Regions from separate parts of the Homo sapiens genome. Here all the other regions are linked to region 2. The links come from fine-mapping of genetic effects on gene expression. A gene starts in region 2. Each other region holds a variant in brackets. All regions are shown on one strand. Distances are from middle to middle. Region 1 overlaps THADA (THADA armadillo repeat containing). Region 2 holds the start of PLEKHH2 (pleckstrin homology, MyTH4 and FERM domain containing H2). Region 3 overlaps PLEKHH2 (pleckstrin homology, MyTH4 and FERM domain containing H2). Region 4 overlaps THADA (THADA armadillo repeat containing). Region 5 overlaps PLEKHH2 (pleckstrin homology, MyTH4 and FERM domain containing H2). Region 6 overlaps PLEKHH2 (pleckstrin homology, MyTH4 and FERM domain containing H2).

What was found. PIP is the estimated chance that this variant, and not a neighbour inherited with it, causes the effect. A credible set is the group of variants that fine-mapping cannot tell apart.
Region 1: its variant is the best candidate, but not a certain one, in a credible set for the expression of PLEKHH2 in putamen (GTEx, PIP 0.72).
Region 3: its variant is the best candidate, but not a certain one, in a credible set for the expression of PLEKHH2 in Th1/17 cells (Schmiedel 2018, PIP 0.79).
Region 4: its variant is the best candidate, but not a certain one, in a credible set for the expression of PLEKHH2 in spinal cord (GTEx, PIP 0.84).
Region 5: its variant is the best candidate, but not a certain one, in a credible set for the expression of PLEKHH2 in caudate (GTEx, PIP 0.88).
Region 6: its variant is the best candidate, but not a certain one, in a credible set for the expression of PLEKHH2 in spinal cord (GTEx, PIP 0.62).

What each region holds. Positions count from the first base shown.
Region 1 is chr2:43,278,583-43,282,672 of GRCh38, forward strand. THADA (THADA armadillo repeat containing) reads right to left here. Exons shown (of 38, transcript NM_022065.5): 36 at 1,183-1,314. Among named protein-coding and RNA genes, the nearest start is that of LINC01126, 53 kb to the left of the region's middle. The variant G/A (reference allele first, on the strand shown) is at 2,484.
Region 2 is chr2:43,635,491-43,639,580 of GRCh38, forward strand. PLEKHH2 (pleckstrin homology, MyTH4 and FERM domain containing H2) reads left to right here and starts at 1,770. Exons shown (of 30, transcript NM_172069.4): 1 at 1,770-1,889. RefSeq lists a silencer at 1,674-2,003.
Region 3 is chr2:43,747,473-43,751,562 of GRCh38, forward strand. All of the region lies in intron 24 of PLEKHH2 (pleckstrin homology, MyTH4 and FERM domain containing H2), which reads left to right. Among named protein-coding and RNA genes, the nearest start is that of DYNC2LI1, 25 kb to the right of the region's middle. The variant T/C (reference allele first, on the strand shown) is at 1,652.
Region 4 is chr2:43,382,330-43,386,419 of GRCh38, forward strand. The region is part of intron 29 of THADA (THADA armadillo repeat containing); the gene reads right to left. Among named protein-coding and RNA genes, the nearest start is that of LINC01126, 160 kb to the left of the region's middle. The variant C/A (reference allele first, on the strand shown) is at 1,538.
Region 5 is chr2:43,727,139-43,731,228 of GRCh38, forward strand. It overlaps PLEKHH2 (pleckstrin homology, MyTH4 and FERM domain containing H2), which reads left to right. Exons shown (of 30, transcript NM_172069.4): 18 at 2,499-2,607. Among named protein-coding and RNA genes, the nearest start is that of DYNC2LI1, 45 kb to the right of the region's middle. The variant G/A (reference allele first, on the strand shown) is at 2,390.
Region 6 is chr2:43,737,821-43,741,910 of GRCh38, forward strand. It overlaps PLEKHH2 (pleckstrin homology, MyTH4 and FERM domain containing H2), which reads left to right. Exons shown (of 30, transcript NM_172069.4): 20 at 521-700; 21 at 3,126-3,223. Among named protein-coding and RNA genes, the nearest start is that of DYNC2LI1, 34 kb to the right of the region's middle. The variant T/G (reference allele first, on the strand shown) is at 1,928.

The sequences.
Region 1 (4,090 bases), 360 kb before region 2:
GCTCTGTTCCAAATGCTATCCTGCTGAGAGGAAAAGCTGATCTAGGCGAAACCTGCCCTGGTGCGGTATCACTGAGAGATTATTCCAAAACTAGCTTCTTCCACATAGGCAGAGAAGTGTACACAGACCATTTTGACTGAGGATTCAGATCCTGGAAGGTTCACACATCTGGGGAGGCTTCCAGGGAACACAATCCTGTGTCCTGCCTTGGCAAGCAGCCCCAGCCACAGTAACTGATGAGGGGCCTTGCATCAATTACAAAGGCTTATCTGGCCTCCTTTTCTCTCATTCTGCTGTCTATTAAGGTGAACTTCTTTGCTCAGCTTTGATCCCTTGCCTCAAAACAGTGTTCTTGCTTCTCATTGGGACCGCTGATCCAGAGACCTTTCCTGGCACCCAGCCCCAAGCACAGAGAATCCGAGTCTGCTAAAGCAGGCACCCTCCCAGATGGCCACTTGTCCAGAGGTGTGACCTTATTTCTACTCCATCTGCCCCCATCTCTTTCATCCAGCAGCCCATTTTCTACCCACAGCCTGAGTTCCTTTTAGCTTTCGTAGCATTTGCCATTACATGCACATGACCCCGGGCCTGGGGCTGTAACCGCTTATACGACGGCTGCGACCTCAGGACTACCCAGCTAGGGTGCTCTTCTTTCCACTCCCCTCCTCCCTCCTGGGTTCATGTTATTATCAAATGAGCAGCTAGGACACAAAGTAGAGAAACTTAACGTACACATAATCATTTCTCGCTTTCTGTCACATATAAAAACTCAGGAACAAAATGATGGTTTTGTGATTCCTGAGTTATGGAACCACACAGATAATAGAGACTTGGCATTATTTAAAACCGATGACAACGTAACCAGCAAAAGACCTAACAGTTTATTAAATTTCTACCTTTAAAAATAATTTTTCTTTAGGATGTCCTACAGCAGGGGTCAGCAAACTACGGCTAGTAGATCAAATCTGAGAAGCTGCCTATTTTTGTAAGCAAAGTTTTATTGGAACACAGTCATGCCCATTTGTTTACCTACTGTTTGTGGCTTTCCCACTAAGATGGCAGAGTTGAGACACAGACCAAATGACCAACAATGCCTAAGATACTATCTGGCTCATTATAGAAAAGTGTTCCAACCTCTATCCTGCAGCGATAAGACAATGCAAAAGGATAAGAACGAGGTACCTGTTGACTGGCAGGTATTTTCTTGTGACATGGCAGTTGTCACGGTTTCCGTGGCTGCATCTCTAACAGCTTGCTCCTCACTCTGCAGAAGGGTAAGGACACACTTCCAGAGAGCAAGTGTATCCTGCAACTCTAAGAAGACCAAAAGGAATCTGAATTACCTAGAATGCAATTAACAGGCAGGTGCAAATACTGCTTCAAATCCCTGGTGGAAGAGAGGAGCATTGAATGAGTTACAGCTATCTCTTTTTTTCTGGGTATTGTTAAGATAGAAAGAGTGTTAGACAAACATTGGCAAAGACAGACTCCTAAGGGAGCAGATTTGGAAATGCCTTTTTTGGGGGTGAGGATGTAGGCTTTCCGGAGGCAACCAGCGCTAGGCAAGGCCTCCAGAAGATGCTGCCCAGGTGACAAAGACCCTCTGCCCTGCTCTCCTAGTTGAGTCCTGATTCTCTAGAAGAAAACTTTATGCATAAGACTGCTTTGGAGAAACTAGCCCAGTGTTGATTCAAGTGTCTGAGCCTATAAATTCTGAAAGTGAAGCATCAATCAAGATTATGCTCTGGGGGCAAGAATAAAAAAAGAGAGGCTAGGTGTGGTGGCTCATGCCTGTAATCCCAGCACTTTGGGAGGACGAGGAGAGTGGATCACGAGGTCAGGAGATTGAGACCATCCTGACCCATATGGTGAAACCCCGTCTCTACTAAAAATACAAAAATTAGCTGGGCGTGGTGACGGGCGCCTGTATTCCCAGCTACTTGGGAGGCTGAGATGGGAGAATCGCTTGAACCTGAGAGGCAGAGGTTGCAGTGAACTGAGATCGTGCCACTGCACTCTAGCCTGGCGACAGAGTGAGACTCCATCCTCGCTCCCGACCAAAAAAACAAAAAACAAAACAACAACAACAACAAAAAAAAGAGACCCATGATAAAGGCAGCAGCTTGTGTCCCATGTATGTAGGGGGTCCACTATCTGACTGCCATTACTCCTGGACACTGATCTGTCTAGTCAGCCTGTGCTAGGTGCTGCTGCGGACAATGAATAATAAAAGATAGTATCTTGTCCTGAGCAATCAAAAGGAATATAAAGTCAAAAACACAAAGCAATGAGTTGTGAAGAACAAAATTGTGTGGCTGTGATTCCCAACAGGAAAGATGAGAGTGGACTGCTGTAACTGACACAGAATTCATGACGAAAGTGAGAGGTGAGCATGGCCTCCCAGAAAGGGGTACCTCTAGTCCAGGTGGGGTGGGCCTGGGCTTGTGGAGGGTTATCACTGGAGGGCCATGGAAGACCACCAC[G/A]CAGCATCCCCATCCTTTCAATGGAGAAACTACCCTTCCCTAAGAACTCCCCTTTGTCTATCCTCTACCTCATCTGTACATGGAGAACCTGGTTTCAGAGTCACTGATGCTTTAGTCATACCAATAATAACAGTGGCTCCATTTGGGGTTTCGTTCTCTTCTTTTCATTACAGATCTGATTTAAATTTTACTCAGCCTTTCAGTCTCCATTCTTTCTAGTTGTTCTGTAAGGGTTCAATACCTTCCTTTCTTAATATTTTCCTCTTTAATATGGTCATCATTTATATCCTTCAGATCCTTCCCTCTTTAGTCCATTTCAATTTTTCTTTTTCCTTAAATGACTTTGCTGTGCCCTTGACTTTTCTCATGTACTTCTTTTTTTTTTTTTTTTTTGAGATGAAGTTTCACTCTTGTTGCCCAGGCTGGAGTGCAATGGGGCAATCTTGGCTCACCGCAACCTCCACCTCCCAGGTTCAAGTGATTCTCCTGCCTGAGCCTCCCGGGTAGCTGGGATTATAGGTATGCACCACCACACCCGGCTAATTTTGTATTTTTAGTAGGGACAGGTTTTCACCATGTTGGTCAGGCTCAAACTCCTGACCTCAGGTAGACCCACCCTCCTCAGCCTCCCAAAGTGCTGGGATTACAGGCATGAGCCACCACGCCTGGCCTCTCATGCACTTTTATGTCCTTTGCTTCTACCTATTCAGTACCTTTTTCATTGAGATGGGGTCTCACTATGTTGCTCAGGCTGGAGTGCAGTGGCACAATGGCTCACACTGCAGGCTCGACCTCCCAGGTTCAAGGAATTCTCCTGCCTTAGCCTCCTGAGTAGCTGGAACTACAGGTGTACACCACCACATCTGGCTAATTTTTTTATTATTTGTAGACAAAAGATCTTGCTGTGTTGCCCAAGCTGGTCTCGAACTCCTGGGGTCAAGTGATCTTCCTGCCTCGTCCTCCCAAAGTGCTAGGATTATAGGCATGAGTCACTGCACCTATTTCTCATGTTCTTGTAGGCACAGGACCAAATTTCACAAAAGAATTCCAGGTTATTCCACACACATTTTACCTGTTATAAGCTAGGGTTTGAGTAGTTAAAGTCACCCAGAAAATGTGCTGCAAAATGGTATTAACTTTACTGGAGAAGCTTGACTAAGGTTTGTCACCCTTTGCTCTTATTCCTTCGGGTCTCATGATTAAATCACACTCACAGAAGGTCCCTTCTCAATGTCTCTCTGGCTGTAAGAAAAATGCCTGAAGTCACTAAGAAGAAAAAAGTTAAAACCATATTGAAGAAAACGTTGTCTCCCAGAGAGATACAGGGACAGGAGACCCTTTATTGGTCTGAACTCCTACAACATTTAAAATTTGGATCTCACTATCTAAAAAACAATTCCTTCCTTTATTCTATAAATCCTTTCTCCACAACTATACTGAAAGCTCCTTGGAGGCAGTGACCATGTCTGATTCTTGAGGGCTGGGCATGGAAGAGGTACACAAAAATATAATTCTACTAATAGGTGAGAAGAGAATCATAGCATGTTAATACGGGATTAAACATGGCAGGAGAGGGCAGGGTTGGGGTTGAAGCACAGCTGTAGAAC
Region 2 (4,090 bases):
GCTGGGATTACAGGCATGAGCCACTGTGCCCATCCTCTGTGTGTGTGTGTGTGTGTGTGTGTGTGTGTGTGTGTGTGTGTGTGTGTTTTATATAAGATGAGATAAAGTTAAAAAAAAAAAGATTGTAGTAGAAAAAGTTTTTCTGATACTCTCTATTGGCCAACTGTGAACCAAAGAGAATAATCTGTCTGACCTAGCTTTGTGACCTGGGGAACGATTATCCATAACATTCAGAATTCTCTTTATTTTACCCTGAGATTGACCTCTCCAGACCCTAAGTTGGGATGTAAAATTCACCTGGATTTAAATTATCACTAATTTACTTATGCAATATGCTCTGTGCTGAGGAGAATGCAAAAAAAAAAAAAAAACCACAAATCCTTGTTTTCAAAGTGCTCACAGTCTAAAAGAGATGTGAGGAGCTGTGCATAAGGCAGAGGGAGCTAAGCCCCAAGAGAGGCAAAAATCTAGATGTTCAGGGAGCAGAAACCAGAGAAGACCTTTTTTTTTTTTTTTGTCTCAGATGGAGTCTTGCTCTGTAGGCAGGCTAGAGTGCAGTGGTGCTATCTTGGCTCACTGCAACCTCCGCTTCCCAGGTTCAAGCGATTCTCCTGCCTCAGCCTCCCGAGTAGCTGGGACTACAGTCGTGCACCACCACGCCCAGCTAATTTTTGTATTTTTAGTACAGACCAGGTTTCACCATGTTGGCCAGGATGGTCTCGATCTCTTGACCTCGTGATCTGCCCTCCTCGGCCTCCCAAAGTGCTGGAATTACAGGCATGAGCCACTGCGCCCGGCCCAGAGACGACATTTCTGCCAGGTGGAGCGACAGACATAGTTACATGGAGAAGATGATGATGATGATGATGATGATAATGATGATGATTTGAGACAGGATCTCGCCCAGTCGCCCAGGATCCAGTGCAGTGGCATGATCGCGGCTCACTGCAGCCTCCATCTCCTGTGTTTAAGCAATCCTCCAGCCTTAGCCTCCTGAGTAGCTGGGACTACAAGTGAGCGCCACCAAGCCCAGCTAATTTTTTTTTTTTGTGTGTATATATATATATATATATATATATTTTTTTTTTTTTTTTGGTAGAGACAGGGTTTCACCATGTTGCCCAGGCTCGTCTCGAACTCCTGGCCTCAAGTGATCCACCTGCCTCGGTCCCCCAAAGTACTGGGATTACAGGCGTGAGCCACTGCGCCCGGTGAGAAGATTATTCTGAGCTTTTTGAAGTGGAGACAGGAAATAGCATGTAAACGCTCCTAGTGCCACTTCCTTCGGGTGGCGAGGTGCACAGCAGTAGTCTCAGGTGTGTGAAGGGCAGCTGTGAGAAATAAACCTGAAAAGACGGGATGGAGACCTTGAACACTAGACTAGGGAATCTGTTCTTGATAATTTAAGCAAACGGAAGCCAATGAAAGTCTTTGGCACACTGTTCATCAAAACTGCTCTTAAGGAAATTAACCTGGCAGGAAGATGAAGGGTGGATTGGCAAGAGGAGAGACTTCAGACTGGGAGACCAAGGGAGGGTGCTGCAACAGTCCAGGCAGACGGAGTGGAATGAAGGTGACCGGCCGCTGCAGCAAGCTCTGGAGTCTCGCAGTTGGGACGTTAGGGGTACCACTCCAGGACAGAGCTCCCTCCTGGGGCAGGGACTGGGAGGAGCCAAAGTTATAGCCACACCCCCGGTGACGCCCGGTGGTCGGCTGTGGTCTCCCATTGGCTACACCGGCTGCCAGTCCCTGGAGGAGGCGGTGCCCTTCCCCGCCCTCTCCGAGCTCGGCTTGAGGCGGGCGCGGGCTGAGAGTCCGGGGATCCCGGGGGCCAGTCGCGGCCGGGACATCGGGCGCTGCGGCCGGGGACCCGCTGCTGAGATAGACAGGTGAGAAAGCCCGGGGACGAGGGGCCACTCCAGAGTTCCTGCCACCCTGGGATCCCCGCCCCCTTGAGGGCGCCCCGTCCAGGGGGGCTCGCGGGGCCGAGGTTTGGGGCGCCGGGAGGAGCGGGAAGGCGGGGACGAGAGGGACGGAGCGGGCTGACTCGGGATCCGCCGCTGCACCTCCCGCCACAGCCCAGAGTCGGCCCCCAAGTCTGGATGTCGCCGGGAGAGGTGGGCAGGGGGCGGTGGCCGGCGGTCCCTCGCGCCCGTGGGCTCCCGTGACGTTCTGTTTGGAAACACTGGGCCCGGGCTTCTGGCGCGGCGCGAGCGGTCCCGGGGGCGCAGCGGGGCAGCCCAGGGTCCCCGAGCCGAGGGACCCGCGCGGTCAGGGATGCCGCGCTCGCCTTAGGCTTCGGGAGATCCACCAGGATCTCCGGGGCGAAACTTTAAACTCAAAACTTTAAAGAAGCATTTTGTACACCTCGAGTTGCTGGCACGTCAAAGCACCCTAAGGTGACCTACCCGGAAACCACTGTCCCCGAAGTTAGTGGGGCACTTTTTAAAGGACAACACTTTTTACCCGTCGATATTGTTGTGCGTAACGCTGTGGAAATAGAAGTCGAACCACTTACATTGGAAAAGCTCTGGTGGTGGGCTACCTGAGGGTCACTGCTTTCTTTGTGAAAATGCCAGTCTTGGAAGCCTGGCCCGCACAGCGGTGTGTCCCAGAGGAGTATGTAGTGAGGAGCTCGGCTGTTCTGGGCAGGGTCACCGAAGGGCAGGCGTTGCCCAAGTGGGGCTAGGTGGCTAGGTGGTGGTCAGAAGGTTCCTTAAACAAGGCATGCCTCAGTCTCGTCGAGAAAGATCTTTTAACACACACACACACACACACACACACACACACACACACACTCACACACACGATTACCCAGCCCAGTTAAGCTGTCCCTTAAGAGGCAAAAACTAAAGAATATCATAGAGACTAACGCTGCGCTTCATCAGGGTAAGCCTAAGTAGAATAATTCTTTCATTTCTTTTTCTTTCCTTTTTGGGATTTGGAAGAGAAACAGGAAGTCAGAGATTCAGAGAAAAGAGCATTCACTCCACAATTGTAAACAGTTTATCTTATGTCAGTAAATACTTCCAAAAATCACTGGGGGTATTTGGAACTCCAAGACTTTTTCCTGTCCCCTGAAGTGAAGATAGATTATTTTCAAATGCAGAATCTAGACATGATAGATTCCTTTCAAATTCAGAATCTATATGTGGTATTTTCTTTATTTAGCAGTCGGCTATGTTATATAGTTATATATATATTCCCAATGTTATATAGTTCTATAACATTAGTGGTAATGAAAAGGATGGCGGATATTGTTTAAAATTAGAATTTTTAACTACCCAAGATGGTGCACTAATACAACAGTTGCTTTGTACTTGTTAACTAACTGAAATTACAGAATGAAATGAGGGAATCAGGTGTCTGGATCTCAGTGCAGACCATTATCCAACCAATTTGCAGTTCTGATTTATTATGACCCATTAATAGGGAATGTAGATGTTAAATGCCAATTTAATAATATTCTTAAGGCTTTGCTACTTCACTATAAAATATATAATTAGCATAACTAAAGAAATAGGTATGTTTGACTTTGAATTAATTTATTATGTCATCATAGCAAAGTGCGCTAGGTAAGATATATGTATGATACTTTTCATATTTGGGGTTAACAGTTACCTCTCAATTTTTTGAGCTAATTGTGAAATTCTTGGCAGGGATAACCACAAATAATGGTTGATTAAATTTGTAAATGCAGTCCTAGTATACATCCATTTAAACTGCGACTTTTTCTTTAGTCATTTGTAAATATGTGATCTTTTTTATTGAGATCTTAATATAAGTCACAAACTATAAGATTTTTCCTTTTAAAGTATACAGTTCACTGGGTTTTGGTATATTCACAAGGTTGTATAGCCATCACCAATATCTAATTCTAGAATATTTTCATCACCCCAAAAAGAAACCCCCTATCCATTGTAGTCAGTATCTGCTACCTTCTCCTCACAGCCCTTGGCAACCACTAACCTACTTTCTGTCCTTTGGATTTGCCTCTTATGGACATTTCATGTAAATGGACTCATACAATATGTGGCCTTTTGTGTCTGGCATCTTTCACTTAGCATAATGTTTTCAAGGCTCTTCCATG
Region 3 (4,090 bases), 110 kb after region 2:
ATGGAGGCTGCTTAGCTTGTGTCAAGAATTGAGAAAATGCCGGAGACTCCGGAGCACACACCTTCTCTACAGATAAAATGGTAATGTACTTTGGCATGTAGTCAGGAACCAGATTTCCTTTCTTTCTTTTTAAATATTTTCATTTCTTTCATGTATTAGCAAAAGGTAGTACTTAATAAACACTGTTAACTGACCAGCTCACATTAATTATAACAAAATAATGGTATTTTGCTGGTTTTATTTGAGTCTTATACCCTGTAAATTAAGGAATCTATAAAATGTCAGACCCAGAGCCTGGTGGAATTATTGGAGTGGTACTCAGAGGTCTCTTTTTGGAAGATGTTCAGACTTAAAATTGGAATGTAAGAATTGAAGGCACTGTACAACATAAAGAATGTAATTTTGATCCACTTTAAAATTTCTTGTTCTAATAGTCTATCCCACAGAAATATGCAGATAAGTGGGCAGAGTATTCCAGTATGTCACAGTATCTTCCTTGTCATGTTTTTGTCATATTCTTTGTCAATGTTTTTGTTAAAAACTTGGGACAGACACTCACATGTTTATTACTAGGGAGAACAGTTAAATAAATATGGCACATTCATATTTTGGGCTCTTCTCTCATCCAGTTGGCCACTTAAAGGGCCACCCAGTATTTGAACAGACTCTGTTGATCTGAATAAATGGTGGTTGTGAACACTGGAGCTTCTTTATTCAGGGGCTCATGAGCTGTGATGATTTGCCAGAGGTTCAAGTAATAAGAAAGTGACTATTAATCTTTGGTGTCTAAGATTTTAAAATCATGCATTCCTAGAGATAAGCAATATTGCATAGATATTGGAAATCTAATAGGCTTCATCCCTGGAGGGACCTGTTTCCCTTGAGGGCAAACTTTATCAAGGTATCAGTGGCCCTTTGGTGACTGGGAAGGACAGCAGGCTAGAATATTTGGACCTTCTAGATTATTATTGTAGTTCTGTTTAATCTGGAGCAGTAGTTCCCAACGTGGGCCCAACACTAGCAGCCTCAGGACCACGTGGAACATGTTAGAAATGCAAATCATTAGGCCCCACTTCAGACCCACTGAGTCAGAATTTCCGGGGGTGGAGCCCAGGAGTCCCTGTTTTGACAGCTCTCCAGATAATTCTTACACGTGCTGGGTTTTGAGAAGCACTGACCTAACGGTCCTCATTGCTGCCCCTGCCTCTTGGCCTCAGCCTTTGTGGAAGGAGCCAGCTCCTGGACCTGGCCTGCCAAAGACATTTATGGAGAAGAGGTTCAGGCATTCTTTTTTTTTTTTTGAGACAGAACTTCACCCTTGCTGCCCAGGCTGGAGTGCAATGGCACGATCTCAGCTTACTGCAACCTTTGCCTCCCAGGTTCAAGCGATTTTCCTGCTTCAGCCTCCCAGATAGCTGGGATTACAGGCGCCTGCCACCATGCCCAGCTAATTTTTGTATTTTTAGTAGAGACTGGTTTTCACCATGTTGGCCAGGCTGGTATCAAACTCCTGACCTCAGGTGATCTGCCCGCCTCGGCCTCCCAAAGTGCTGGGATTACAGGCATGAGCCACTGCGCCCAGCCAAGACTATTCCTAATAATCTAAACCTTATGAATGCTTAATACATACCAACTCTGAGTATGATGGCTA[T/C]GATTGGAACTGAAGTGAAATTTGGATAAAATTTGGATATGAAAGACAGGTAAAAATAATGCTTCAAGTCTAACAAACATCACAAGGAAGGACAAAGAGAGTCGTGAATAAAAATTTTTTGGTTGACAGTTGGTTGAGTTTATCCAAAGACCTGGAATCAATAGAAAGGAATGTCTGGGTTGCCATAAGAGGTTGTGGAGTCTTCACTTCAAGTTGTTCTGCCTTCCTAGACCAAACCAATAGATTTCTTAAGTTATTTGATTGAAGTCTCAGCCTCCGTAAAATGCGTAAAACCAAGCAGCTCCCCGACCACCTTGGGTACATGTTCTCAGGACCTCCTGAGGGCTGTGTCACAGGCCATGGTCACACATATTTGGCTCAGAATAAATCTCTTCAAAAATTTTTTTTTAAAAGAGAGAATTGTGAATAACAGATGATGATTACCTTGTTTAAAAGTAAAACCTCATGACAATGTCTTTGACAGCAGGAAAAAAATTAACTCAACTGAAAGGCTTGATTTTTAACAGAACTCTGAAATGGCTGGATAGCCACAGCTATGAGAAAGTAATGTTTCTAAACATGGCCGTGCTTTGCCGGTGTTTATAAGTAGCTTAGACAATGAGCCCTAATTTCTAGTGATACAGTTAGGAGGGAACCTTGCTGTGACCTGTCACACAGCCAAGGACCTGATTCTTCATCTGCCAAGCAGCAGGGTAACAAACAAAGCTAAAATATCAATTCTCTTTATCATGGAATTTTAAATGGATACTTAACAAGTGATGGAATTTTAATTATTTAGATTCAGGTATGAAAGATCTAATTAACAGGTTTTGAACTTGTTCTCATAGACAACCGTTGGCAACTAACATTTAAATTCTATTCATAGTTAAGCTTCTTATTTAATTTGATTTCTCACTGTGTTTTTGAAGTTGTAAGAGCCAAGGCATGTTTTTAACAAAAGAAAACTGGCCATAGCCAGAAGTTTAAGCCAAGAAATGGAGTTTATCCCATTTCTCCTAGCTATGTTCACACCAAAAAAAATTCCAGGATCAAGAGACTCTCATGTGGACCAGGCACCGTGGCTCACGCCTGTAATCCCAGCACTTTGGGATCCTAGGCAGGCGGATCACCTGAGGTGAGGAGTTCAAGACCAGCCTGGCCAACATGGTGAAACCCCGTCTCTACTAAAAATACAAAAATTAGCTGGGCATGGTGGCATGCGCCTGTAGTCCCGGCTACATGGGAGGCTGGGGCAGGAGAATCGCATGAACCCAGGAGGCAGAGGTTGCAGTGAGCCAAATCGTGCCACTGCATGCCACTGCACTCCAGTCTGGGTGACAGAGCGAGACTCTGTCTCAAAAAAAAAAAAAGAGAGAGAGAGACTCTCATGATTCCAGAGACCTCTGGGGAATACTACTACTGGTACTCCTACTACTACTAACCCTCATTTGTTGAACATTTACCTAACATCAGGCCTTATTCTTAACTCTTTGTATGCATTCTTACATAATCCTTACAACCCTTTGAGGTACTATTATTATTTCCATCTCACAGATGAGGTAACTGAAGCTTTAGAGAGTTAAGTCACTTGCCTAAGACTATGAAAGGGAATTCTTCAGGATTTTTGGCAAATAATTCCTGTACTTAGCAATTCTCACGTACCATTTATTTGTCCATTCATGCCATCTACCAGTGCCAAGACTTGTTTGAAGCCTTGGGAATTCCAAGGTGAATAGAGTTTCCTTGCCCTTTAGAATCTTCCAGTTTATAGGGAGAGGCAGACATGAAGTCTTAGCAATGCAATCAGTGCTGTAACAGGAAGAATGTAGCACAGGAGTGAAGAACATGGGCTGGAGACAGGCTGCCTGGGTTAGAATCCTGGCTCTACCACTTACTATGTGGCCCTGAGCAAGTCACTTAACATCTCTGTGCCTCAGGTACCCTGTATGTGAAACGGAGGTCAAAATGACTCCCACCTCTAGGGTTGTCTGAAGGATTAAATGTTGGCAATTGTAAAGCACTTGGTTCAGAGCCTGCCACATAGTAAATGCTTTGTAGATATTTGTCGTTACCATGAGTATGACGCATACGTACAAGAGGTTGTAGGGACATAGAGGAAGACTTTGCAGAGTGGTGACTTCTGAGCAGATGACTGGAAGTTGGACGCCACTGAGGCAGGAAGAGAACAATTGCAGTTTTAGTAGAGTATAACCAGTAGACCATGGTGGACTGAGGAGTGAAGGAAGGGTGAACAGAGAGAGATTGCAGGCTTTCCCCCCAGTAAGTTTACAAGAGGATGGGAAGGGCAACAGTAGGAAATAAATGCTCTGAAGAATGAATATGGATCCAGTTGAGGGCAAGCAAAAGGATCGCCCAGTGGTGCTGAGAGCCCTGCTGAATTTGGAAGCAGTATATTTGCGTAGTGGTACTGGTCCACAG
Region 4 (4,090 bases), 250 kb before region 2:
TACAGAAACTTTCTGTACTATCTTAGTAACTTTTCAGTATATATAAAACTATTCTTAAGTAAGAAGTTTATTTAAAATGAGACAGTGACTATCAGATTGCATACTGAAACAAAATCAGATATATGTTCTTTATGAGAGACAACTAAAACTTGGAGAGACAAAGAATGAACATAAAAGATAAAAAAGATATTCAAGAAATACCAAGCAAAAGAGAGTTGGTGTCACCATGTCAATACCAGACAAAATTAGAATTTAAGCCAAAAGGCATTAACAGTTATAAAAGAGGAAAATACTTAACGATAAAAGGAACAATTCTCCTGAAAAGCATAACAATCATAAAGATTCTAGCCACTTCATGGATACTGCTTCTAACTGCTGCACTAAAATGTATAGAATTAAAGAAGAAATAAGACAAATTCACATATAGGAGCTTTTGACACACTGCTTATAAAGTGACAGATTAAGCAGGTTTTAAAAATCAGTTAAGAGTTTAGAAGATTTAAGTAACACAACACAGTCTTCCAAGCACACAATTTACAAACTACCACATTACTATACCACAAAAATGGCCTCAAAAAATTCTCAAAGAAGGAATATAATTATAAATTATGTTCTCTGACCACAAAATAACATTTTAAGAAAATTTAACAATAAAATCTCAATATCAATGTTTTAATTTCAAAAAATAATCAATGGGTTAAAGAATAAATTATGAAAATGTTCAGATATTTAAAAGTGGACAACAAAGAAAGCACCATGTATGAACACTTATGGGATGGGACTAAAATGGCATTAAATGAGCATGTATGGCTCTAAATGTACATTTTGAAAAAGAAGAAATAATATTAATAAAAGATGCATCTAACCACACAGAGATGATTGACAGTATCAAAATTGGTTGTTGGAAAAGCGAATCAAACCAATCAACCTAGGCTCACTATATGCTTAGTAATAGGTGTTTTGGAGACAGTGCATAAGTAAGGCACAATCCCTGCCGTCCATGAGTTCACCATCTTCTTGGTAAAATAAAGAATTACGTGACAGCTAGAACACAAAGCTATATATGAGTTACAGTATTAAGGGTTCTCATCAGCAGTTTAAGCTAACATACCAGATAATTAGCATCACACCCATCTCCCTGTTGGTCATGGAAACAAAGGCATAACCAATCACCGAATGTTAGGTTCAGCTGGTCCAACCATCTAGCTACTAGCTGGGAGCCCCAGTACAGCATCCTGAAAAACGTTCATCTGAATTAGTACTTAAACATAATGAACATAGGAGTTTAACTGGGGATCTTGTGAAAATGCAGATTCTAATTCAAGAGGGTTGAGGTGGCCCAAGATTCTGCATTTCTAACCAGTTCTAAGCAATGCTGATTCTGTGGTCCAGAACCACACTTTGAGTGACAAGGTTCTCTAAACTGTGCCTGACCTCAGGAAATGAGTGCTTACTAACACTCCACAGCAACCTATTGCATCTGTGAAAGGTCAATCATTAAAAAAAGTGAAAAACGTTGTCAATTCTTAAATTTATA[C/A]AAAAATACCAAAACATATTCACTTGAACATAAATTCTTGGGCAGACTTTTTGGTGGTATTTTGTTTCTTTTATTAACTGAAATTTTAGATGTTTTTAGGCTTCTACCATCACTCCTGGTCTAACATACACACACAGGCTACCCCCCTACCCCAGCTTCTCTATATGAATTTTAAAATGACCAAACTTACTATGATCAGTGCAGTGATAGTAAGAGTTAACTTCTGAAATGGACAGACAACTGAAAATTATGCACCTCTACTCATGCTCTCATTCGGGAGGGAGAAGTAAAAATTTAGAGAAACAACAAAGGAGGAAAAGCTAGGACAAGGGGAGAGTAACAAAGTAAATCACACATTTTTCCAGAATAGAAGAAGTGATGATCTTCAAGACACATTTACTGAACAATATAGTCCTCCTTCTCTAATGAGGCTGTTGAGCTCTTGGGGAGGGGCGAGGGGTGTGAGTAAGAGCTTACCACTGCTTGGGGATTACAGGCTAGGGTACACTGGTATTCATTTTCTTCAGAAACCTACCCAACTCAGTACCCTTTTGAGTTGGTGGGTGTGGATTGTAATTACATTTCTAATTTACTCTAAGAGTTTCCTTTGAAGAACATCAACTCAAATTTCTAGCATGTTCTTCCTAAATGTACATACTGAACACACATATTTGTACGCTCAATCATGAATTTTAATAAATTACTGCCTTGTATCTCTGTTCTCTATATGCACATCTAAAAATCAGACCTGATGACTATTTCAATTTTCTCTCAATCTGATCAATGCATACTTCTTTTCAGTATAAGAAAAATTTGGGGCTGGATGCAGTGGAACATGCCTGTAATCCCAGCACTTTGGGAGGCTGAGGCGGGAGAATTGCTTCAGCCCAAGAGTTCAAGACCAGCCTAGGCAACATAGTGTGACTCTATCTCTACAAAAAATTAAATTAAAATAAATAACTAAATAAACAAACTTAAAAAACAATTTGGAGGCCAGGTGCAGTGGCTCACGCCTGTAATTCCAGCACTTTGGGAGGCCGAAGACATGCAGATCACCTGAGGTCAGGAGTTCTAGATAAGCCGGGCTAACATGGTGAAACACCATCTCTACTAAAAATACAAAAATTAGCCAGGTGTGGTGGTGCACGCCTGTAGTCCCTGCTATTTGGGAGGTTGAGGCAGGAGAATCGCTTGAACCTGGGAGGCAGAGTTTGCAGTGAGCCAACATCTCACTACTGCTCTCTAGCCCGGGCGACAAAGTGAGACTCTGTCTCAAAAAACACAAAAAACAAAAACAAAAAAACCCACAAAAAAACAAAAAACAATTTGGTAATTGGACAAGTAAATGTCTCACATATTTGAAAAAATCAGTTATAAAGCAGGAAACTGAAACTGCATTTCAGAAACAAGTTAGATATAAAAATGACTATACATCCTGTAATCTAAGAAGAAAGGGCAAGCTGGGTGCGGTGGCTCATGCCTGTAATCCCAGCACTTTGGGAGGCCGAGGCAGGCGGATCACGAGGTCAGGAGATCGAGACCATCCTGGCTAACATGGTGAAACCCCGTCTCTACTAAAAATACAAAAAAATTAGCCGGGTGTGGTGGCGGATGCCTGCAGTCCCAGTTACTCGGAAGTCTGAGGCAGGAGAATGGCGTGAACCCGGAAGGCGGAGCTTGCCGTGAGCGGAGATCAAGCCACTGCACTCCAGCCTGGGCAACAGAGCGAGACTCCGTCTCAAAAAAAAAAAAAAAAAAAAAAAAGAAGAAGGGGCAAGCATAAAGTCTATCTGCTATAAATGGACTAAAATTTACATGTAAAACTCATCTGTCTAAAGATTTTTTTAAAGGCTTAAGAAGTTAATAAGAAAAAAGTGTCAAACAGCACATGTAAGATGTTAATTATACTGATCTCTTTGAAGATTAACAAAGGTGATAGAATTTGCTGGCACTTGTAAACTCTTCGAAATCACAACTTTTAAAAAACCTCTTAAATCCATTTGATATTAAAAAAAAAAAACTCCAAACAAATAATCTTAGACCTTTTTAGAAATATGATTCTCAGGAAGCTAATGAAAAATGTCCCCCTCACCAGAAATTTTACTTTATAAAGATTAAAAAGGCATCCCAAATAGGAAAATGACCAAGATTCTAAATACCTATTCCATATGAACATGGGCCCATCAGTAAAACATCTGATATCTGATGCCCATACATACCTCAACAACTGCTTCAGAGTGGTACCAGTTCAAGACTATAACACACAACCCACTAATTAATAAGGAAAAAAAAAGTGGAGGATGAAGCAGGAAGGCAACAATTGGCCAAAAAGGTGAACATTTGCAAGTACAAATTCATACCTCAATTAATAATCCCATTCACTTGATGTAGAAAAGGCACAAAATATGCATGCTATTGACAGTAACAAGAGAAATTCAAGTAAGATTTAACTTATGTTTTTTTTTTCAAACATATGCCTTTGTCCAAAACAGAGAGCCTTCATTTTAATATAATAGATGTAGTTTTCCTTTTTTTCCCCAAATAGACAAAGAA
Region 5 (4,090 bases), 92 kb after region 2:
TGCGGTGACTCACGTCTGTAATCCCAGCACTTCGGGAGGCCGAGGCGGGTGGATCACAAGGTCAGGAAGATCGAGACCATCTTGGCCAACATGGTGAAACTCTGTCTCTACTAAAATACAAAAATTAGCCAGGCGAGGTGGCGTGTGCCTGTAATCCCAGCTACTTGGGAGGCTGAGGCAGGGGAATCGCTTGAACCCAGGAGGTAGAGGTTGCAGTGAGCTGAGATCGCACCACTGCACTCCAGCCTGGCGACAGAGCGAGACTCCGTCTCAAAAAAAAAAAGAACAAAAACAAAAAGGCAGTGTAAGAAATCAGAGTGCAAATGGTTGATAGATTTGACTATACAAAATTGAAATAATTATTTATGTCAAATATTATCATAAATATGACTAAAAAGATAATACAGAAAACAAAATATTTCATGGATGGCTACTGTATCCTTAACATATAAACAACTCTTTATAGATTATTATTGTTACTATTGATCATTGTTTTTGAGCACATGTATCAGGCCAAGTGCTAAGTATATCTCTTCTTCATCCTTCCAATTACCCTCTGTGGGAGGTGACCTTATTCCCATTTATAGATGGAAAGACTGAAGCACTTTCCTGTGGTCACACATCTGGCAAGAGGCAGAGTTGATATTAGACCCCTATCTCTAACCACAGAGCCTGTGTTCCTGAACACTTGCCTCTGCTACCTCTCATATGATTTGAAAAGGACTATGTTTCTAGTAGAAAAATGGAAAGAGGGCCTGATGAACAACTTACTGAGGAATTTAATGGCTAATGAATGCTTACGCTCATCTGTAATCAAAGATGCGCACATTTAAAAATGATAAAGCTTTTATTGTCTCTGAGATTATCAAAGATTTAAAAAATTATGCTAGTGAAGCTATGAGGAGGGAAGCACTCCTATATACCACTGGTGAGAATAGAAATTAGTGTAAATGCTTTGGAAAGTACTTTGAAAATATGTTTCAAGAGTTCCTAAAAGTTTTCTCGCCCTAGTAATGACTCATAATTCTATTTCAAAAAATATATACTAAGAAAATGTTGGCCAGGCACTGTGTCTCACGCCTGTAATCCCAGCACTTTGGGAGGCCGAGGCAGGTGGATCACCTGAGGTCAGGAGTTCGAGACCAGCCTGGCCAATGTGGTGAAACTCCATCTCTACTAAAAATACAAAAAGTAGCTGGACGTGGTGACAGGTTCCTGTAATCCCAGCTACTTGGGAGGCTGAGGCAGGAGAATCACTTGAACCTGGAGGCAGAGGTTGCAGTGAATCGAGATCGCGCCATTGCACTCCAGCCTGGGTGACAGAGCAAGACTCTGTCTCAAAAAAAAAAAAAAAAAAGAAAGAAAAAGAAAATGTTAGTAAATGTAGCCAAAAATTTATGTATAGTTTGTTCAACACAATACTCTTTTTTTTTTTTTTTTTAAAACAGAGTTTCACTCTGTTGCCCAGGCTGGAGTGCAGTGGCGTGATCTCGGCTCACTGCAACCTCCGCCTCCTGGGTTCAAGAGATTCTTCTGCCTCAGCCTCCCGAACAGCTGGGACTACAGGCATGCACCACCATGCCCAGCTAATTTTTGTATTTTTAGTAGAGACGGCGTTTCACCATGTTGGCCAGGCTGGTCTCAAACCCCTGACCTCAGATGATCCACCCGGCTTGGCCTCTCAAAGTGCTGGGATTACAGGCATGAGCCACCGTGCCCGGCCTACAATACTCTTTTTAAAATAATTTTATTTTTGAAGTATTTTAAAGATGGAAAATATAACATTTCCTTTTCAGTTAACAGATGATAGCTGTCACAGTATTTTTTATCAGTGAGAAGTTAGTAACCATCATAATGTTCAGCAATAAGAAATTGATTAAATAAATATGGTGTGTCCATATGTGTAGTAGAATATCCTGCAGCCATTAAAACTTGTTTATAAAGAATTTCTAGCAACAAGGGAGTGCTTGTACTATATTACTAAAATTCAGAAATTATCCTCTACTTTCAGAATAATTCAACTATGTAAAAATTTAATCTACATATATATTATCATAGAGAAAAAAAGACCAGGAATCTTTGGTGAATGGGATAAGACGGGTATTATGTTTTCTTTAAATTTTCTGGATTTCCAAAATATTCTGTATGTATCACTCTGGGAGCCAGATTTTTAATTTAATAGAATTTATTTATTTTGTAAAAGAATATCAGCTGGTTGTATTTAGTCTCTTAACATGTGTTACTCGTCTTAATTTTGTCATGCTTTTCTAAAATGCATCTGAATAAGAAAAGTGTAAATAATGGGAAAAGGTAATATAAACACAGTTCAAGTGAGCATGCCTCAGAATTGTTTGAATAAATGGCTTTTCATTATTATTTAAAAATTAAA[G/A]CAAGTGGTTCATTTCCATCTCAAAGTTTTCTACTGTTTATGCAAGTTGTTTTTTTTTCTTTAATCAAAACTGTGTCTTAACATTTAATTAATATGTTCTGGTTTTAAGGACACTTGGCTTTATCATCTGACTGTTGCAGCTGGAAGCAACAATGTAAACGTTGGATCTGAATTTGAACAACTGGTTTGCAAATTGCTAAATATAGACGGGGAGCCTTGTAAGTTCATAAACATATAAATAAAGCTTTATGGTTAATGAAATGGACCTCAACCCGCTTAGCCTAATGGAGTTTTCACTTAATGGGTTCCTGTTTCCCTGAAATATACCCACCTTTTCATTGCCTTTGCTCATCATGGGAGAGAATTCTGTCTGTGGCTCTTTGGCTGCAGGGACACCATCATTCCTCATTAGTCTGTGTCAGGTCACCTCCCTCTGCCTTTGCTTCCACTGCTCCTCTGCTTGGAATGCCCCCTTCGTTGGCAGTCCTCACCAACATAATGAAACCCCACCTAGCCTTAGGAGATCCCCCAGCCAGCCCTCTGCAGCTCAGCATCTGGCTCATAAAAGGTGCTTCATCAATGTTAAAATTATGTCCTAATGCGTTTTGTCACTTAATTCTTTTATAGCAAGCTTGGCCAACCTGCAACCCACAGGTGGCCTGTGGCCCCAGATGGCTTTGAATGTGGCCCAACACAAATTCATAAACTTTCTTAAAACATTACAAAATTTCTTTGTGAGTTTTTTGTTTTTAAGCTCATCAGCTATCATTAGTGTTTATATATTTTATGTGTGGCCCAAGACAATTCTTCTTCCAGTGTGGCCCAGGGAAGCCAAAAGATTTATAGCATTTGTAGTTTTGCATTGAAATTAAGTTTTTGTTTTGTTTTTGAGACGGAGTCTCACTCTGTCACCCAGGCTGGAGTGCAGTGGCATGATCTCCGCTCACTGCAACCTCTGCCTCCTGGGCTCAAGCAATCCTCCTGCCTCAGCCTCCTGAGTAGCTGGGACCACAGGCATGCACCACCATGCCCGACTAATTTTTGTATCATTGGCAGAGATGGGGTTTCTTCATGTTGCACAGGTTGGTCTCGAACTCCTGAGCTCAAGTAATCCACCCACCTCAGCCTCCCAAAGTGCTGGCATTACAGGCATGAGCCACTGTGCCTGGCCTGAAATGAATTTTTATGGCTAAGGTTCCCCCACTGAGAGACTAGATTCTATCCTATGCTTTATACGCTAAGAGAGACCACATTTTATTTGCTGTGTCCAACACAGGAATTTAATAAATGTTGATTTTAGGAATGCCTTCAAGTTCCTCTTTATCTTTATATCTCTTTCTACTTTGGCTTCTCCTCTCTAGAGAAGTTCTAGATCTTTCCCCAGCTCTTTCTCATATATAGTCATGCCCCCTACCTAGGTCACCAATCTTTAGCACATTTAAGCAACGTGATAGTGCCCTGGTAGACTTATTGCAGCCTAGTAAATTAGGACCCAACTCTTCTAGATTATCCAAAACAGGAACATGTCTCACTCATAAATGGGAGCTAAACTGTGAGGATGCAAAGGCATAAGAATGACACAATAGACTTTGGGGACTGAGGGAAAGGGTGGGAAGGGGGTGAGGCAAATCAGTTTCAGTATATACTGCTTGGGTGATGGGTGCACCAAAATCTCACAAATCACTAAAGAACTTACTCATG
Region 6 (4,090 bases), 100 kb after region 2:
ACAGGAGGGAATTAACTATGGATCTGAATGTCAGGATGTGGAGATCACGGAGGACCACTTTGGAGATTGGCCACCACACTTCACATGTTCAGGAAGGTAAAGGAAAGCATGAGCATTTTAAGAAGAGTAAGAGAAGATATTAAAAAGACCCAAATTGAATTTTTAGAGATGAAAAATGCAGTGACTAAAATGAAAAATATGCTGGATGAGATTCACATGTATTCTGAAGCTCTGTTATTAAGTATGTAGATGTTTAGGATTGTTATGTCTTCTAGATGAACTGACCCCTTTATCATTATAAAATGACCCTCTTTATCTCTGGCAGAATTCCTTGCTCTGAAATCTGCTTTGTCTGCTATTATTGTGGCGATTCCAGATTTCTTTTGATTAGTGTTATCATAATATATCCTTTTCCATCATTTTAAACAAAAACTACTGCTGAAAAGATATTCGATATAATTCATGCAGAATAAATCTAATCACTCCTCACCTTGAATATATCTTTTTTTGTTTAATTCAGACCTGCCAGCTTTTTATAAATGCTGCAGTTGACTCTCCTGCAATTGATTACCACATATCTTTAGCCCAGAGTGCTTTGCAAATCTGCCTGACACATCCTGAGCTGCAGAATGAAATTTGCTGTCAGCTTATTAAACAGACAAGACGAAGACAGCCACAGAATCAACCAGGACCATTGCAGGTAGATATTAATATTGATACATATACATGCAATTTAAAGTGTTTTTTTTTCTGATTGTAAGAATGATACACATTCAGCATAGACATTTGGAGAATACAAAAAGTGCAGAAGGAAAAATAGGTATTAATATTTTGATGTCTACCTTTTTGGTTTATTTATATGTTTATATATAAATGTGTGTATGTTGGTGTGTGTACACTCACAGTTTTTTATATTGCTGGAGTTACAGTGTGCATACTACTTTTTTAAACTATAGAAAATAATCGTTTCCCCTATATCCTTAGACATTCTTCAAAACATTAATGGTCATGTTAACATTAAGTACGATACATTTCTATATTTTTTCCTATAATAAATACCTCTGCAGTAGACATCTTTGAACCTAAATGAGATGGAGTTTCGCTCTTGTTGCCCAGGCTGGAGTGCAATGGCACAATGTCGGCTCACTGGAACCTCCGCCTCCCGGGTTCAAGCAATTCTCCTGCCTCAGCCTCCCAAGTAGCTGAGATTACAGGCATGTGCCAACACTCCCGGCTAATTTTGCATTTTTAGCAGAGATGGGGTTTCACCATGTTGGTCAGGCTGGCCTCGAACTCCTGATCTCAGGTGATCCGCCCGCTCTGGCCTCCCAAAGTACTGGGATTACAGGTGTGAGCCACCGCGCCCACCAGGAACCTAAATCTTGTGGACAGGTCCAGCGAATTCCTTTGAATTCATTTTTAGAATTTTCCTATATCTTCAACAACATTCAGTATATTTTAAATTCTTACCAGGCAAAAAAAAATATTTCACTATTGACTCAGGATGCGTTTCTTTATTAGTGCAGTTGAATATATTTTTCAGGTGTTTGGTAGTCATCTGTGTTTACTCTTCAATGAACACCTGTTTTTATCTTTGTGTATTGACTGCCTGTTAGCCACAGGATAAATCAGAAATTTCTTACCTTAGCATATAGGACTGTCGGGGTTGGATCTAGGTTTTGTGAGACCGAAGCTTATACAGTTTGGGAAATGCTCTTTAAGACAAAGACTTGAAAATGGATTACTTTTGCACATTTTAGAAATCATATGACCATGTAAACACAGTTAATAAGCCTTTCCCAGGACCTGTGCCCAAGAGGGAATCTGAAGCTTAAGCTTCATCTGCATCAAGAACACTTTGTCATCTGGCTCCACTGGCCCGCTCTTTCTCCACTTCCTGCCTCCAGCAGACAGTGAATGAATAAAT[T/G]CGCCCCATCCTTCAAACACACTCCACCTTTGCAATATTCTCCACCATGCACCTGATGGTATTCCTGTTACCTGGATCCCTCCTCTTCCTTCCCTTCCGTAGACTTTATAGTCCAGCCTAAGCAACATATTCCCTGTGATGCCTTCCTTGACTCCACAAGAAGTTAGTCATTCCTTCCATTGGTTATGCTTTAAAAAGTTAATACGTGGTATTACCATGTTGTATTATAATTTACTGTTTAAATATATAACTGTCTCCTACTAGACTGTAGGTTCCTTAAGGGCAGGGACAATGCCTATTTCTCCCTCTTTTTTAATATAACGTTTTAAAAATGGCTGAAAATTATACATAGGAAACAAGGGCAAATAAGATCTCTATCCAACTTTTTTAATATAACGTTTTAAAAATGACTGAAAAATTATATATAACAAACAAGGGCAAATGAGATCTCTATCCTACTTTTACATTTATTTACTCTAATGAGTTTGTCTAATGCTTAACATTTTTTAACAAATGCAGTGTTTTATAGGATAAAGAAATTAAAAAAATTTTTTTGTTGTTTGAAGACTTTTTGTACCTTGTTTAGTGGTTGAGCATTAACCACCATGTTCTTCAGAAGAGAATTCTGCTGTAACATGTTTTATACTTCCTTGAAAAAATATAGAAAGGAGAATACAGAACAGAGCGAAGGAAAAATAAAAATCACATATATTGCTGCTACCTAAAGATAACCTCTGTTAATATTTTTATACTTGTCCCTTATTTAGGTATGTAGATACATACGTGTGTGTAGGTAGATTGGTTTTGATTTAGGGCATGTGTTTTCTACTGTTCTGCAATCTGCGTTTCTCAAAACTATTACTTGTATTTCAAGGAATGAGTAAATACGTAAGTGAAAAAAAAGAAACAATGTTCCTAATCTTTGAGTGTAACGTCAAAAAGGAGCACCTTGTCTGCTTGTGCCTTGGTTCCTCAGTTGTAGATAACCATACACACAACTAGATGGATCATAGATCTGACCCAATGTAGAGTTTTTTGTTTTTAACCTATGATAAATGCTGTAAACAGATCATGCATATGTGAAAGAAGCAAAACGTTTTTGGGTTAAGAGAGACTGTCATCAGCCCATTGCACTCACTCAGATGTGGATCTCTGACTGGCACGTGGTATCTAACCTGTGGTGCTTCTCCCTGCCCAGGGCTGGCAGCTCTTGGCACTCTGCGTTGGGCTCTTCCTTCCCCATCATCCTTTCCTGTGGCTCCTCAGGCTTCACCTAAAGAGGAATGCAGATTCCAGGTGTGCAGAATACTAGCCAGCTGAACTGTTTATGTGGCCTCTGAAAGTCTACGATAAATCATAAGTATTTAACGATCTGCCAGGTACATTTTCAGAAGAATGTATGAAACAAATATTGGTACAGGAAGCCTTTGGTTATCATTGATGTGGAGCTAGGAAAATATTTCCTTTGTTATGTTAAATCTCTTAGGGAAGATTGCAATAAATACTTGAAAAACTGACAGAGAATATTTTTAAGTGAAAAGTGCATTTGCATTTCAAGTATGAATGACTTAGCATTAGTGGGTGTTCATTCAATAAAAGCAACTATTTTGTTTCCTTAGTTTTCCCTTTTACTATTTCTCTGCACATTGAATTCTTTTATGTGAAAAATTTCCCCCATGGTCTTCCCTCCTTTTCTAATTGTATGTATTTGAATTACTTCAGAATTGTTACTCCTTTGAAAAACACATTTAAAGTTCAACTTCCAGAATGGCTTTCTTACATTGGGACCCAGGTCACTCAGCCAAGGCTTATCCAGGGTCATTTTGTCCACCAAGAGGTTTGTGTCAGGTTGCTTAAACTCTTGGACTAAAGCAAACACAGTAAAAGAAACAAACAAATAAACAAACCCAACTTGGAAGCAATAGGAAAATATTCTACAGTTCATAATACATTGTGGGGCCTCTGTGATCAAGGTCATCTGTGACCAAGGTCAGGTAATTTCAGTTGCAGTCACTGAGGAGCCCCGAGACCAAGGATCTGCCTACAGGGCACTTGAATACAAACATATTTGACAGGTGTTATCAATCTGCTTGAATAAGCAGTAAAATTTATGTATAACAAACAAGGACAAATAAGATTTCTATCCAACTTTTACATTTATTT